Linked DNA regions of Homo sapiens. The protein of the gene in region 1 binds, or shares a complex with, the protein of each later gene. Each region holds a gene or a part of one and is shown in the gene's direction. Other genes may lie near its edges.

Evidence for each region. The genes of interacting proteins can lie anywhere in the genome.
Region 2: the proteins of CCND1 (region 1) and AMBRA1 are in contact, whole or in part, in a cryo-EM structure (PDB 9IVD), measured with the Homo sapiens proteins. Residues at the interface, in NP_444284.1 of Homo sapiens: Thr286, Pro287, Thr288, Asp289, Val290, Arg291, Val293, Asp294, Ile295; in NP_001354397.1 of Homo sapiens: Arg54, Ser55, Phe57, Val73, His75, Arg96, Thr97, Trp99, Leu116, Ala139, Arg184, Ile945, Asn1012, Asn1029.

The regions. Positions count from the first base shown.
Region 1 is NC_000011.10:69,636,217-69,644,179, forward strand, and holds the start of CCND1 (G1/S-specific cyclin-D1), read left to right. Parts: upstream 1-4,939; 5' UTR 4,940-5,097; coding exon 5,098-5,295; intron 5,296-6,814; coding exon 6,815-7,030; intron 7,031-7,615; coding exon 7,616-7,775; intron 7,776-7,963. UniProt on the Homo sapiens protein: Regulatory component of the cyclin D1-CDK4 (DC) complex that phosphorylates and inhibits members of the retinoblastoma (RB) protein family including RB1 and regulates the cell-cycle during G(1)/S transition.
Region 2 is NC_000011.10:46,591,024-46,598,418, reverse strand, and holds the start of AMBRA1 (activating molecule in BECN1-regulated autophagy protein 1), read left to right. Parts: upstream 1-4,395; 5' UTR 4,396-4,591; intron 4,592-7,054; exon of another isoform or gene 7,055-7,294; intron 7,295-7,395. UniProt on the Homo sapiens protein: Substrate-recognition component of a DCX (DDB1-CUL4-X-box) E3 ubiquitin-protein ligase complex involved in cell cycle control and autophagy.

The DNA.
Region 1 (7,963 bases):
AATAAAATGTAGCTATAGGCAGTTTCTGGACGTTTTCCTATTTGTTAAGCACCTTCTTGCTCCGAGCTTTCCAGCCACAGTGCACTGGACGCCATCGGAAGGCTGCAGCTGCTATTTGGTGCTTTACCACCGCTGAGAAGGTGGAATGGTCACGGCCCGGTTCTGTCACTTTCTTCAGCCGGACAGTCGCCTTATTACGGATTCCAGTAGGGCCGAGCACACTCCTTCCTGCCCGTCTTTACAGATGAACATGCTATCGCTCCAGCAGTACAACCCGCCTTATTACGTAAAAAAGCAGCCCCTATCTACCCGCAGGGAAGGAGTATGTTCGGCACCACAGCTGGACTGGTGCTCGAGTTAAGCGTCCTGGGAGGTCCGCATGCGCTCCGGAACCGTAATGCGCGCTTTTTCTAAGCCTTACGGTAAACGCGGACGCAGGGCAACCACGTGGCGGTGGAACCGAGGCCCGGCGGGAATGCGCGGAATGCGCGGCGCGGCCTCGCGCGGTTCCCGAGCCACGGCCCAGGGTCCGGCGGCGCGCGCTCTCGCCTCCTCCCCTCACCTCTCCCAGCCGCACCCCGGCCCTGGCCCTGCCGCCCAGAACTCGCTGGGCAAGTCGTGCCCCGCGTGAACACACAGAAGGGGCTTGGGGACCGAGCGCGGCCCATCAGTCCCTCAGACCCTGAGGACCCAGAATTCCCTAAGGGGTCCGAATCCGAGTCCTGCCCCCAGCCCTTAAGGCACGGGCTCCAGGGACCCCAGGGGAAGGGCGCGGGGCATTAGGTACGCAACCCGTTTCCCCGCACCTGGAAAAAAACTCCCTTTCCCTCCCCTCCCCTGCTTGTTGAGTGTCCGGATAACCAGAACTCTAAGGCGCCCCGTAATAACGACCCCGCTGTCCCTCCACCCACCCCCAAGTGCCAAAGCGAGGGATGGAAGCGCTTTCAAGCGTTCCAAGGGCATTGAGGAGCGAGCTGGAGAGGCGCGGGGATGCGGGGTCCTCCCCGCAGTCTTCCGGAAAGGGCGGGGGAGGGCGCGGCAAGTTCCGGAGTGGGGCATGCCGTGGGAGCCCACGAGGGCCTCAGCGCGGATCCTCCGCCGGAAAACCGGCTCCCGCGAGCCGCCGCCGCAGGTTTCCTAGGCCCCGCGAGTCCCGCAGCGAAGCCCTGCGTCTCCGTCCGACGCGGGGGTCTGCTCAGCCTCGGGTGGGCCGCGGCCAGGCCTGACTGCGGGGGAGAGGGCCGAACGTGACCTCCGAGGTCACCCCCAGCCAGCTTTCTCTCCTGTGGTCGGAAGTGGTTTTCTTCTCGATCTGGGCGCCTACTCCCCACCACTTGGTCTGAGAGGGGCTGGGGCCGGAAGGCCAGGGAATCTCTGGTGGATTTGGGGGTTCATATTGCTCAGGGTACCAGCCGATGCGTTTTGAGGGGCGGGAGTCGAGGAATTAGAATCGCCTTTAACCCTCAAGAGTTGCGCCTTCAGCCTCGGGATCCCAGATGCGTCGTTGGAGCCAGGGCCGCCCCCCTACCTGTTGGGTTTGCGTTTTAACTCCAGCGCACACCTTGCCGGCAGCCCTCGGAGCTAGGGGAGGGGTCTCGTTTCCCCGCAGCCCGCCGGACAGACGACTGGGGCACGGGAGGGGCGGTGGCAGGGTGGTCTGTGTGTGGCTGAAACTAATTGATCTGGAGCGGAAACGCACGTCTGCGGTTGGGGCGATGGGGGGGGCGGTGCGGCTGTCCATGTGCCGAGCGTGTGGCTGTCTCGGGTGGGCACTGGGGCCGGAGTTCGCCCCGGCCCACCTCGCAGTTTTGGGGCGCCTGGGATCGGCGCTACGTAAGCGAAGCAGAGCTGCCATAGCACGTGGGCCGCCACGCGCACCCCAAAAGCAAGCAGTGTGGGGGGAAGGGGAGCTCGAGCGCCTTCGGAGCCCAGGGGCCGGCTTTCGGAAGCGTTTTCCCGGGCGACTTAAGGGCTTAACAATGGAAAACTCGCGGAGCCTGAGCCAAGTCCTTTCAAGTCGCCGCCAGGTATGCGGCTGCAGGTGACCCCACCTGGGTGCGCCCGCCCGCCAGCCGCCCTGGTGGAAAAGCGGGTGCGGGAGGTCGCTGGCGAAAGGTCGGGACTGGTCCCTGCACCACCCGCCCCCAACCCAAGCCCCGAGCCCCGCGGCGCGCAGCCGCGCTGAGTCCCGGGGTCTGCGTCGCGGCGCGCCGGTTCCTGAATGAACGCGCTCCCTTCCCCCGCCTGAATGAAGGTTCCCACAGCCAGGGACGGTGGCGAACACGCGCCTGCAGCGGAATTCGCTTTCTCCTGACCGACCATCCGCCCAGGCCGCGGTCACCGGGGCGGGGGCCAGGGGGCGAGGAAAGCGTGAAGGTGATTTCAGTTAATTTTGGATTTTCTTTCAAACAACGTGGTTACCCTCCCGACTGGGCCACTTGCCCTTTGTCTCCAAATGGTCACCAAGAAATAAGAACAGAGCACTTTAAATGAGCCCAGAATCCGCAGTTCCTGCTTCGTGGTGGGTTTTAAGAAGACAGTGTAAAGTAAAACTGCAACCGAAAAGTTTTTTAAAGTTGCTTTTCTCTTTGGAAAAAATAAAATCAAAATGCTTTCTCTGCGCTTCTTGAAGCAATGACCCTCAAAAGCCCAGAGGTATTGGCCCCCTCGGGGGACCCGGGGGCCGCCAAGCAGGGTTCCCCCAGGTGGGGGCTGGGCAGCTGGCGCTCCCCGCCGGGCCCCAAATTCCAGCGCCGGGCCCCAAATTCCAGCGCCTCCCCCGCGGGTTCCTGGACGGCTCTTTACGCTCGCTAACCGGGCTTGCAATTTTGCGCTCGTCCCTGAGCCGGGAAATCAACGAAGTTCCTAGTCGAGATCTGCCCGGTCCGCCTAGTAACAGCGCCGCGCCCCCATTGGCTCATGCTAATTCCAGTTTCCTCTGTCTTGCGCCCGGGATGGGGGGGTGAAGCTCCCTCCTGGACCCAGAGCCGGTTGTGCCGGAGTGGGCGAGCCTCTTTATGCCCTGCTGCCCCTAGCCGACTTCGGCCCGCTTCGCGCCTCGGGCTGGGCCAGGGCGCACGCGGGGCTCGGGGCCCCTCGCCCCACGGGATGGGAGAGGCCGGGTGATAGCTCCGGGCCCCATAAATCATCCAGGCGGCCGCCGGGTCGGGATTTTATGAATGAAAAAGCAGCTGGGCCGCCCTTGTGCGCGGGCTGATGCTCTGAGGCTTGGCTATGCGGGGGCCAACGCGATTGTGGGTGCTCGGGGAGTGGGGGGGGGCACGACCGTAGGTGCTCCCTGCTGGGGCAACCCATCGCTCCCCATGCGGAATCCGGGGGTAATTACCCCCCCAGGACCCGGAATATTAGTAATCCTAATTCCCGGCGGGGGAGGGGGCGCGGGAGGAATTCACCCTGAAAGGTGGGGGTGGGGGGGGTCGCATCTTGCTGTGAGCACCCTGGCGAAGGGGAGAGGGCTTTTTCTATCAGTTTTCTTTGAGCTTTTACTGTTAAGAGGGTACGGTGGTTTGATGACACTGAACTATATTCAAAAGGAAGTAAATGAACAGTTTTCTTAATTTGGGGCAGGTACTGTAAAAATAAAAACAAAAGTTAAGACAGTAAAATGTCCTTTTATTTTTTAATGCACCAAAGAGACAGAACCTGTAATTTTAAAAACTGTGTATTTTAATTTACATCTGCTTAAGTTTGCGATAATATTGGGGACCCTCTCATGTAACCACGAACACCTATCGATTTTGCTAAAAATCAGATCAGTACACTCGTTTGTTTAATTGATAATTGTTCTGAATTATGCCGGCTCCTGCCAGCCCCCTCACGCTCACGAATTCAGTCCCAGGGCAAATTCTAAAGGTGAAGGGACGTCTACACCCCCAACAAAACCAATTAGGAACCTTCGGTGGTCTTGTCCCAGGCAGAGGGGACTAATATTTCCAGCAATTTAATTTCTTTTTTAATTAAAAAAAATGAGTCAGAATGGAGATCACTGTTTCTCAGCTTTCCATTCAGAGGTGTGTTTCTCCCGGTTAAATTGCCGGCACGGGAAGGGAGGGGGTGCAGTTGGGGACCCCCGCAAGGACCGACTGGTCAAGGTAGGAAGGCAGCCCGAAGAGTCTCCAGGCTAGAAGGACAAGATGAAGGAAATGCTGGCCACCATCTTGGGCTGCTGCTGGAATTTTCGGGCATTTATTTTATTTTATTTTTTGAGCGAGCGCATGCTAAGCTGAAATCCCTTTAACTTTTAGGGTTACCCCCTTGGGCATTTGCAACGACGCCCCTGTGCGCCGGAATGAAACTTGCACAGGGGTTGTGTGCCCGGTCCTCCCCGTCCTTGCATGCTAAATTAGTTCTTGCAATTTACACGTGTTAATGAAAATGAAAGAAGATGCAGTCGCTGAGATTCTTTGGCCGTCTGTCCGCCCGTGGGTGCCCTCGTGGCGTTCTTGGAAATGCGCCCATTCTGCCGGCTTGGATATGGGGTGTCGCCGCGCCCCAGTCACCCCTTCTCGTGGTCTCCCCAGGCTGCGTGTGGCCTGCCGGCCTTCCTAGTTGTCCCCTACTGCAGAGCCACCTCCACCTCACCCCCTAAATCCCGGGGGACCCACTCGAGGCGGACGGGGCCCCCTGCACCCCTCTTCCCTGGCGGGGAGAAAGGCTGCAGCGGGGCGATTTGCATTTCTATGAAAACCGGACTACAGGGGCAACTCCGCCGCAGGGCAGGCGCGGCGCCTCAGGGATGGCTTTTGGGCTCTGCCCCTCGCTGCTCCCGGCGTTTGGCGCCCGCGCCCCCTCCCCCTGCGCCCGCCCCCGCCCCCCTCCCGCTCCCATTCTCTGCCGGGCTTTGATCTTTGCTTAACAACAGTAACGTCACACGGACTACAGGGGAGTTTTGTTGAAGTTGCAAAGTCCTGGAGCCTCCAGAGGGCTGTCGGCGCAGTAGCAGCGAGCAGCAGAGTCCGCACGCTCCGGCGAGGGGCAGAAGAGCGCGAGGGAGCGCGGGGCAGCAGAAGCGAGAGCCGAGCGCGGACCCAGCCAGGACCCACAGCCCTCCCCAGCTGCCCAGGAAGAGCCCCAGCCATGGAACACCAGCTCCTGTGCTGCGAAGTGGAAACCATCCGCCGCGCGTACCCCGATGCCAACCTCCTCAACGACCGGGTGCTGCGGGCCATGCTGAAGGCGGAGGAGACCTGCGCGCCCTCGGTGTCCTACTTCAAATGTGTGCAGAAGGAGGTCCTGCCGTCCATGCGGAAGATCGTCGCCACCTGGATGCTGGAGGTGCGGGGCTTCGGGCGGCTCTCTTAAGACTTCCCTGCAACTTGTTGCCCAGACCCACGTTTCTTTGCTACTCACCCCCCTCCCTTCTCTCCCGCTAGAACTTTGAAGTTTGCCGTGGTGTTTCTAGGGATCCGTATTTTCAAAATAAAAATTGCGGGTATTTTCTGAAGGAGGAAGGGGTGGGGGTGGGGGTGCTAGAAGTAGCGTTTCGTGGGAGGGGAGAAGGGGGTCCGGGAGGGGTGCCTTCGGGAGAAGCCAGTGCCAGGGGCACCCCAATGGGCCCGAGGGTGCGGGCTGGCAGGCTGGGTGCGCTTTGTGTCCCCCGCCTGCGCCCCAGCCCGGCTGCGCCTCAGCGGCCGGGAGCCGCCAACTCCGGGGGGAGGGGGCATAGATTTGATTTTTAAATTAATATCCATGGACACGTATGCAAGGGCCGCTCGTGCCAGTATTATGCGCCATCTTTGCTCTTTTATTGCAAAGCAAAAGTGTTTATTAATAATTGGGGGCAGGGTGGGGGCGGGGAGCGGCCGCCGGGCGCTGGGGCCGCAGCTAAGGGCCGCGCGGCTGCCGGGAGCCCGCGGGAGGGGCGCAGGGACGCGGCATGGGTAGTTTTGGGGGGACGCCGCTAGGGAAGGGGGGGCCTTTGTTCAAGCAGCGAGTCCCGGGGCGCCCCGAACGGGCAGCCTGGGCCGGAGAGCACGGCGAGCTGCAAGGTCGCGTGGCCCCCAAGACGCCAGGGCTTGATCCCCGTCTGCAGGGATATCGGCTTGGAGGACCTTCTCCGAGCGAGCCGGGGGCCTGGGAGCACATTTTCAGACCTTCGGTGGGCGCCTGAGGGGCCCGCAAGTATTTTAAAATAATTTTTGAAAGTGCGGCGTGGTGCCCTTGCGAGAGGGAAACGCCGCCCGCGCCCAGGGGGAAGGGGGGGCCCCGGAGTTTGAATTCCTGGGGCTCCCCCCGGAGCCTGTAACGAACTCCCAACCCCCGGCCTGGGTAAAGGGTCGCCCGAGGGTCATTTTCAGGGTTTTTTTATGCACTTAGTTATTTTTTTAATATTTTTAAATATTTTTTGAAAAGATGACGTCTGGGGAAATGCGGCGCGGCGGCCTGGGACGCCACCTTTGTGTCTCGCAGGCGCGGCGCCCAACCCCGCGGCCCGTTCCGCGGCCCCGCACCCCAGTTGGTGTCGACCCCCAGTCAGAGGGACCACGGAGCTCCAGGGCGGGCCAGGGTCCCGGGGGCCGGCAGCCCGCGCCGCCGCGCACGCCGCCCAGCTGTGCCCGCTCCCGCCCCCACCGTGCCAGCCTCGCGGGGACTTTCCCTTTCAGTTTCGGGGAGGGTGGGTACTGGGGACGCGCGGGGGAGGGGGCGCATCACGGGAAGCTCCTGCCGCCCCCAGCCCCGACCCCTCGGCGCCCTCCAGACCTGGCGGCCCTGCCAAGCGCGATGGGGGGTGCGGGGGCGTGCGGGGGGGCGGCGCGACCTGGCGGCGGCGGTCACGGGCCCCGTGCCTCCGTAGGTCTGCGAGGAACAGAAGTGCGAGGAGGAGGTCTTCCCGCTGGCCATGAACTACCTGGACCGCTTCCTGTCGCTGGAGCCCGTGAAAAAGAGCCGCCTGCAGCTGCTGGGGGCCACTTGCATGTTCGTGGCCTCTAAGATGAAGGAGACCATCCCCCTGACGGCCGAGAAGCTGTGCATCTACACCGACAACTCCATCCGGCCCGAGGAGCTGCTGGTAACCACTGGACCCCGCCGCCCCCCGCCCCCCGCGAGCCGCACGCAGGACCACGGGGCCGGGGAAGGTGCAGGCGGTGGCGGCCGGCCCGCCTCTGACATATCTGCTCCTCCGAGGGAGGGCGGCCCCGCCGCCGGGCGTCCCTGTCCGGGGAGCGGGCGGGATCCTAGCCGCCCTCGTCCCGCCGCCCTGTGTGCGCTTGCCTGCGACTCCCACCGCGTTCGCGCCCCGCGGTGTGGCCGAAAAGTGGGCGGCGCGCGCCCTCCAGCGGCTGCACGAGGAGCGCCGCGCTCGGCGCTGAGCCTCCAGTTCCAGGTGGTGGGAGGTCTTTTTGTTTCCACTTGCAGAGTCTTTTCACGCGGCGGGCGCCTTTTCTGTTTTGATCTGGGATTGCGTGTTGCCCCAGCTCCCTTGAGTCCCCAGCATTCGCCAGCCCTCCCCTCCAACATCCAGGACCGCACGAGACGCAGGGGCCAGTGCTCTGAGCCGGAGGTGCGGCGTGGCCCGGCCCCCGTGCTGCCGGCTTCCCCGCGCCCCCGGGCTGGCCCGCACCTCCCCTGATGGCCGCTCACCCTGTGTTCGCAGCAAATGGAGCTGCTCCTGGTGAACAAGCTCAAGTGGAACCTGGCCGCAATGACCCCGCACGATTTCATTGAACACTTCCTCTCCAAAATGCCAGAGGCGGAGGAGAACAAACAGATCATCCGCAAACACGCGCAGACCTTCGTTGCCCTCTGTGCCACAGGTAGGGCAGGCCCGGCAGCCCCCGGCCTCCCCTTGAGAGCCGGCTCCTTAGGTGACCCTGGCCGGCTTCTTGCTCTCCACCTGGGTGCTGTCTGGGAAGATGTCCCCAGACCCCCTCCTGCGCTGGAGAGCGCTCTTCCAGCTCTGGTGAGCAGAGGCCCTGGATTGTTTGTCGCGCTGGATGGAGGG
Region 2 (7,395 bases), about 23 Mb from region 1:
TGACTACAACTGAAGGCCTCTTGTGATTGTAAAGTAGAAGAAATTAGATCTCTGGATACTGAACAGGAGAAAGGAGATTAGACTTTGAAATCATAAATTAGCAAATTTCAAAAAGGGGCCTCCCTGTTTGCCCAGCAAAACATTAAGGATCTATTATTCTGTTGACATGTTAACTTTCTCTAATCTTTATGCTGTCTTTTACAGATGGGCTGATTTCTTTGTCATTCTAGAGCCTTAAAATATTCATACATTTTGATCTATTGATAAATTTCATCACTGGAGATTTATCTTATAGAAATAATTCCAAAGAAGGGAGAGCCTTCTATCATTCTACGGCTAGCAGTTCCCTGCTGTTCTGGGCTCTCTCTCCTTCCCTGGGCTGCTCCTACGTCACTATACTACTACCTTTACCATTCCATCATCAAGTGTATACATTACCCCACAGCACAAAAAGAACCGGCTAGAAAAGAACAGAACAGAATTGCAATGGCAGAATTGACAACTGGCTTACCATTTCAGCTGTTCAAGGCCTGACTGGTCTTCCTGCACTTCCTAGTAAGATGACTCACGGTACCATTACAGAATTATCTCACGCTAGGGTCAAACCTGATTTCTACCACCGAGTGTGTGGTAGAGGCATGTTTCTCAGAACCCAGAGCCAAGATAAGGAACAGTCTCCAATTCCCTGTTCTCTCCCCTCCCTCCTTCACCCTTCATTCCAGGCAAGTCTCCTAGGCAAGTGTGTCCCATCCTCATCCTCTTTTTTTTTTTTTTTTTTTTTTGAGGCAGGGTTTCACTGTCTCTGTTGCCCAGACTGGAGTACAGTGGTGTGATCATGACACACTGCAGACTCGACCTCCTGGGCTCAGGTGAGCCTCCTGCCCCAGCCTCCTGAACATCTGGGATTGCCAGTGTATGCCACCACTCCCTGCTAATTAAAAAAATTTTTTTGTTTTTTAGAGACAGGTTCTCACTATGTTGCCCAGGCTGGTCTCAAACTCCTGGACTTAACCTATCCTCCCGCCCTGGACTTCCAAAGTGCTGAGAGTACAGGTGTGAGCTGCCACACCTGACCTCTTGTTGGTTTAGTCTTTCCAAAGTTTTTTCCATGTGATTGACAGGGGCAAGGTCCATGCTTAAGAGTGAACTGTCCCAGATTTCCCATGGCTGTCACAGTTTTAACACTCAAAGTCCCATGTTCAGGGAAACTCCTCAGTCCTGGGCAAAACTAAGACTGGTTATCCTACTTCAGGGAAGCACCATCCTACCTCAGGGGAGTGGCTCCATGAGGAGAGTCCTACCAGAATTCAGTGATCAACAGTAAACACCATAATGAGTTCTTGAGTCTTAACATCAATATGAGGAACATCAGGGGTACAGCCCAGGATGATCTTCACTTCTGCTGGCCTTGTTTCTTTTTTACAGTTTTTCCTCTAGTGTGAGGAGATTCCCGCAAGGTTGATGGTTTCAACTCCTGATCTCTTGTGATCCACTCTTCAGTCTAAATAAACATTTCCATAAGAACATGCAGTAGTTTGCTGTCAAACTGAAGCTTAAATCCATATATATACATACATATTTGAAAAGAACAGTTCTCTAAAGGAAATTTATCTGTAAAGGTGCAACTCTGCCCATAGAATAAGCCACCCTTTCCATGGTCTCACAAAGCAGTCTAGACTCAGCGTTGCAAATATTTTCATTTTCAGATGATGATTTTAGATAAATCTTTGCCGAACTTTCAGGTGTTTTACTCAAAAGTCTCCAGCTTTTGAAAAAAGGAAAATGTCTAGAGCAGTGAAATTAGTTTTTTTTACTGCAATCAAGGTTTCAAAACAATGTAGTTGGCCGGGCGCAGTGGCTCAAGCCTGTAATCCCAGGACTTCGGGAAGCCGAGGTGGGTGGATCACGAGGTCAGGAGATCGAGACCATCCTGGCTAACACGGTGAAACCCCGTCTCTACTAAAAATACAAAAAAATTAGCCGGGCGTGGCCGGGCGCAGTGGCTCACCCCTGTAATCCCAGCACTTTGGGAGGCCGAGGCGGGCGGATCACAAGGTCAGAAGATCGAGACCACGGTGAAACCCCATCCCTACTAAAAATACAAAAAATTAACTGGGCGTGGTGGCGGACGCCTGTAGTCCCAGCTACTCGGGAGGCTGAGGCGGGAGAATGGCGTGAACCCGGGAGGCGGAGCTTGCAGTGAGTCGAGATCATGCCACTGCACTCCAGCCTGGGTGACAGAGCGAGAATCCTCAAAAAAAAAAAAAGCCGGGCGTGGTGGCGGGCGCATGTAGTCCCAGCTACTCGGGAGGCTGAGGCGGGAGAATGGCGTGAACACAGGAGCCAGAGGTTGCAGTGAGCCAAGATCGCTCCACTGCACTCCAGCCTGGGCGACAGAGCGAGAGTCCGTCTCAAAAAACAAAGAAACAAAAACAATGTAGTTATCTGAGTAAAATTTGAATGAGGGCTATAGCTATGCTCCACAAGCCTCTCCAAGAAGGAGAGTTTTCTTTCTTTCTTTTTTTTTTTTTTTGTAGTCCCGAGTAGCTGGGACTACAGGCTCCTGCCACCACGCTTGGCTAATTTTTTGTATTTTTAGTAGAGACGGGGTTCACCGCATTAGCCAGGATGGTCTCAATCTCCTGACCTCATGAACCGCCCGCCTCGGCCTCCCAAAGTGCTGGGATTACAGGCGTGAGCCACCGCGCCCGGCCTGGGCAGTATTTTCAAAGACTTAGAGGAGATTTTTGTAAAGTGCCAATACATTATTTAAAAAAGGCTAATACTGTAAGGATGTGCTCTTTGAGTTTAATTAAAGTCTTCAAAGGCTGGGACTTTTTTTTTTTTTTTTTTTTTTTTTTTTTTTTTTTTTTTTTTTTTTTTAGACGGAGTCTTGCTGTGTCGCCCAGGCTGGAGTGCAGTGGCACGATCTCTGCTCACTGCAACCTCCGCCTCCTGGGTTCAAGCGATTCTCCTGCCTCAGCCTCCCGAAAAGCTGGGATAACAGGCACCCGCCACCACGACCGGCTAATTTTTGTATTTTTAGTAGAGACGGGGTTTCACCATCTTGACCAGGCTGGTCTCAAACTCCTGACCTCGTGATCCACCTGCCTCGGCCTCCCAAAGTCCTGGGCTTACAGGCGTGAGCCACTGCGCCCGGCATTTAAAAAAAAAAAAATTTAAGATAGGGTCTTGCTCCATAGATCAGGCTGGAGTGCAATGGTGTGATCATGGCTCATCGCAGCCTCCACCTCCCGGGCTCAGGATATCCTTTCATCTTAGCTTCCCGAGTAGCTGGGCCTACAGGCGGGAGCCACCAGGCCCGGCTAACTTTTTGTATTTATTTATTTTTTTTTTATAGAGACTGGAGTCTCACCATGTTGCCCAGGCTGGTCTTGAACTCCAGGGCTCAAAGCAATCCACCAGCCTCGTCTCCTAAAGTGCTGGAATTATGGACGTGAGCCGCTGCGCCCGACAAACTGGGACTATCTTGTTTCCTTTTTACACCCTTCCTCTCTGAGTAGTGGGGAAGGGTGTAAACCTCCCTAGGAGCAGGTAAGGTAGACTATGATTGCTCACAATTGGTAACCATACTTGCAGTGATCTTTGTGATTTATTGAATCACATCTAGGATGTACATATTAATCCATATTTGTGCTGAGCATATTCATTTATCAACTAAGAGACTACAGAAAAAAGCCATTGTTGTGGTGATGAAAATGTCAACACTTTATCAGGTTCTGAACCCAAAGAGACTTTTGCTTATTATGTAAGAAGCACACCTGTGGCTCTAGGCCTTTGGAAGAAAATAAAAGAGAAAAGCAATCCGTGTGCTTTTTTTCCCCCTGCCTTAAGGTCAGGCTACATAATTCTGGGTTTTCCCAGCTTCTCTTGGTCATGCTTTGTGGGGACTAAACTGGAGCTTTTACGTAGACTGTTCATTTTGTTCCTCAGCTTGAATTCTCTCTCGTTTTCTGTCTCTATGATTTTTAATTCCCCTCACTGCTCTGTTAGGAAACTAAGGGTCAAATGAGGTTAACTAATTTGCTCAATTGGGATAAAGAGTGTTGGGAGTCCATAGAACAGTTGGGGGACTATAGTTACACAACAAGTGTTATTGCGCTATGATTTGATCTTCAACACATTCACGAGAAACTCCAGTTCTCTAAAGAACTTTAACAGCCGGCGACCCACAGAAAATGGCAGAAGTGCAGGCTCTTTTTTAACCCGTGGCTTATGATCTGGGTTTGTTTATTTACGCCTCAGACAGGAGCCGGACCTTGAGTAGGAGTTGAGCTGTTTTTCGGCGCTCGGCTGTGGTTCCTTGAACGATTGCTTGGGCGTTCCTCCTTTGATGTCTGGGGCGTTCTTGTATTCGGTGATCTTTTGCGCCGTCTTCTTGCTTGATGTCTCCTGAGCGGCGGCGGCGCCGGGTCGAGGGCTGAGTTGTCCGCGAGGCCCCGCGCTCAAGCCGCCTTCTCCTGCCGGTCGGTAGAACGGACCCCTTCCTTTATTCCTGTCTCCTCTTTCTTTTTCCCTGTGGCTCAGCCCGTTCGCTGGACTGCAAACCGAGCTCCCGTCTGCCTTGCAGGTAGGCCCAGGAGGAGCCTGGGAGGCCCAGCCCGGCATCCTTCCGCCGCGGGGTTGAGAAGACCTTGGCGCCGGCGGGTGGGCAGGCTGGCCGGCCGCCGTGACACTGCCAGAGGAGGGGCTACCGGACTGCGTTGAGGGGCGCGGCCGGAGGGGCAGCCCGGAACCGAGGGAGAAGCCGAAAGGAGGGAGAGTTGCTGGGGCTTCCCGGTGTGGTTCTTTAGGGAGGAGATGTTGGGTCTAGGGCACCCCCAGTGTGTGGCGAAAATGGCTTTCCAGGAACCGATAGAGCTTTGCGCACTTTGACCCTCCTTCCTTTCTCCTTTTCCCCCCACCCCGAAGTCTCCGGGTGTCATGCCTCAATTGCACTGGGGACCCCTACTGAGTCCAGCCTTTGAAGGGACCTTTGAGTAGGTGGAGGCTTATGGAACAAGGCCCTCTGGCTCTTCTGAGCGAAGTGTTATGTTCTCGCCTTTTTCTGGGTGGGTAAACTGAGGCTGATGTCTGGGACGTGACTTCCCCACATATCCCCAACAGATCATTAAATTCACTGTAAGTCACTTTTTGTCGTTTACCAATTCCCTTCCCCCCACTTACCAGTCAAGTTATGAAAACAGTGAGTTATTGTTTGATCGTCTGTGATCCCAATTTTCCTAGGAATATAGACTGTTAGGAATATAGATCCTGTCACAAGAGGCTTCAGAAGTAAAGGAACCATGTGGTTTCTTGGCTGTTTTGCTTTTCAAAGTCTGTATCATTTTAACTAGTGTAGCAATGACAGTTTCTTTTTGTTTCTTGATAACCTTGTTGTCTACTTTGTTTCCTGATAACCTTGTTGTCTACTTTGTTTCCTGATAACCTTGTTGTCTACATTGTTTCCTGGTTGATTTATCCTCCTTCTCCCCAGCCTCTTTGGAAATCTTATAACTATGGTGTTTGTGGTTAGAGGTTAGAGTCTAGTAGAGGATGGTCAAGACTTTGAAGGCAAACGCTTGTCCTGTGAGGGTCTGCTTTCTGGGGAGTATCCAATGGAAACCCAAGGAGTCTGTCTCTCTTTTTTCTTTTTTTTTTTTAAGACAGGCTAGCTCTGTCGCCCAAACTGGAGTGCAGTGGCGCGATCTTGGCTCACTGCAACCTCTGCCTCCCGGGTTCAAGCGATTCCCCTGCCTCAGACTCCCGAGTAGCTGGAAGTACCGGCGCGCGCCACCACACTCGGCTAATTTTTGTATTTGTAGTAAAGACGGGGTTTCATCATGTTGGCCAGGCTGGTCTTGAACTCCTGGCCTCAAGTGATTCGTCCACGTCGGCCTCTCAAAGTGCTGGAATTACAGGCATCCACCGCGCCCGCCCAGTTTTGTTGTATTTGATTAGTAGTTTGGTCACTGCACATACAAAAGCTAAAAAAGGCTGTGTGTAGAAATCATTCAAATATTGAGATATTTAAATGAAAGGTTAACGCTTTGGGAACTCCTTTGTGGTTCCCTTTTCCTTCCCAGCTTGGAAAGTCTGGGGACTAAGTCTGTTATTTTCATCGGATTCAGTACCATGATCCTAATTTGTGTCACTTCATTCTTGGAAAAAAAAAAATTCAGCCTGTCGGGCGCAGTGGCTCACTCCTGTAATCCCAGCACTTTGGGAGGCCAAGGCAGGTGGATCACCTGAGGTCGGAAATTCGAGACCAGCCTGACTAACGTGGAGAAACCTAAAAATTCAAAATTAGCCGGGCGTGGTGGCGCATGCCTGTAATCCCAGCTACTTGGGAGGCTGAGGCAGGAGAATCACTTGAACTCGGGAGGCGGAGGTTGCGGTGAGCCGAGATCACGCCGTTGCACTCCAGCCTAGGCAACAAGAGCGAAACTCCGTCTCAAAAAAAAAAAAAAAAAAAAATCAGTCTTGAGGTCATTCTGGGTTGGATAAGTTTCCAAAGTATGTAGAATCAGTAAGAGAGCGTTTTTTTGTGTGTGTGTTTTTTGAGACGGAGTCTTGCTTTGTCCCCCAGGCTGGAGTGCAGTGGTGCGATCTCGGCTCACTGCAAACTTCTCCGCCTCCCAGGTTCAAGCAATTCTCTGCCTCAGCCTCCTGAGTAGCTGGGATTACAGGCGTCGCCACCACGCCCAGCTAATTTATTGTATTTTTAGTAGAGATGGTGTTTTACCATCTCGGCCAGGCTGGTCTTAAACCCCTGACCTCGTGATCCACCTGCCTTGGCCTCCCAAAGTGCTGGGATTACAGGTATGAGCCACCGCGCCCGGCTAAGAGAGTGGTTTTAAGGGTGCAGAGATTCAGTTCCTAGTCCTTGAGTGGAAACTGTACAAGGCCACATTCTCCCACTATTTTAGTATTCTCATGTGAGTTTTGGAAAGATTACTGTTCCTTTAATTTTTTGTGTGAGGTCAGCAAGATTTAAATGAAGGGCCCTTAATCATAAGCAATTTCCTAGTTACACGACCTCAGTGCTCCCAGAAGGGGATTAATGAAGAGCCACCAGACTATCTTTATGGAGAATCTAGATTGGGAAGTTAAGCTAAGAATGTGCATTTTTGAAAAAGTTTTTATGGTAGAAGAGAATGTATATCAGAGGAAAGAATGTAGAGAAGAAAGCAACATTGTCCACTGGGAATTGATAAGTTCTGCGTAGAATTTAGAGTTATAAGGACTATCTCATTGGCTCCTAATGAATGCTAAATAACAAATGGAAATTGCTGTGAGTGTCATGAAGCAATCTTAGGAATATTTTATTATGTTTCTGCAGGAAATAATTGGCAGAGGCTTAAGTTGAATTGAGGCCAAGAAATTTGGTGGTGT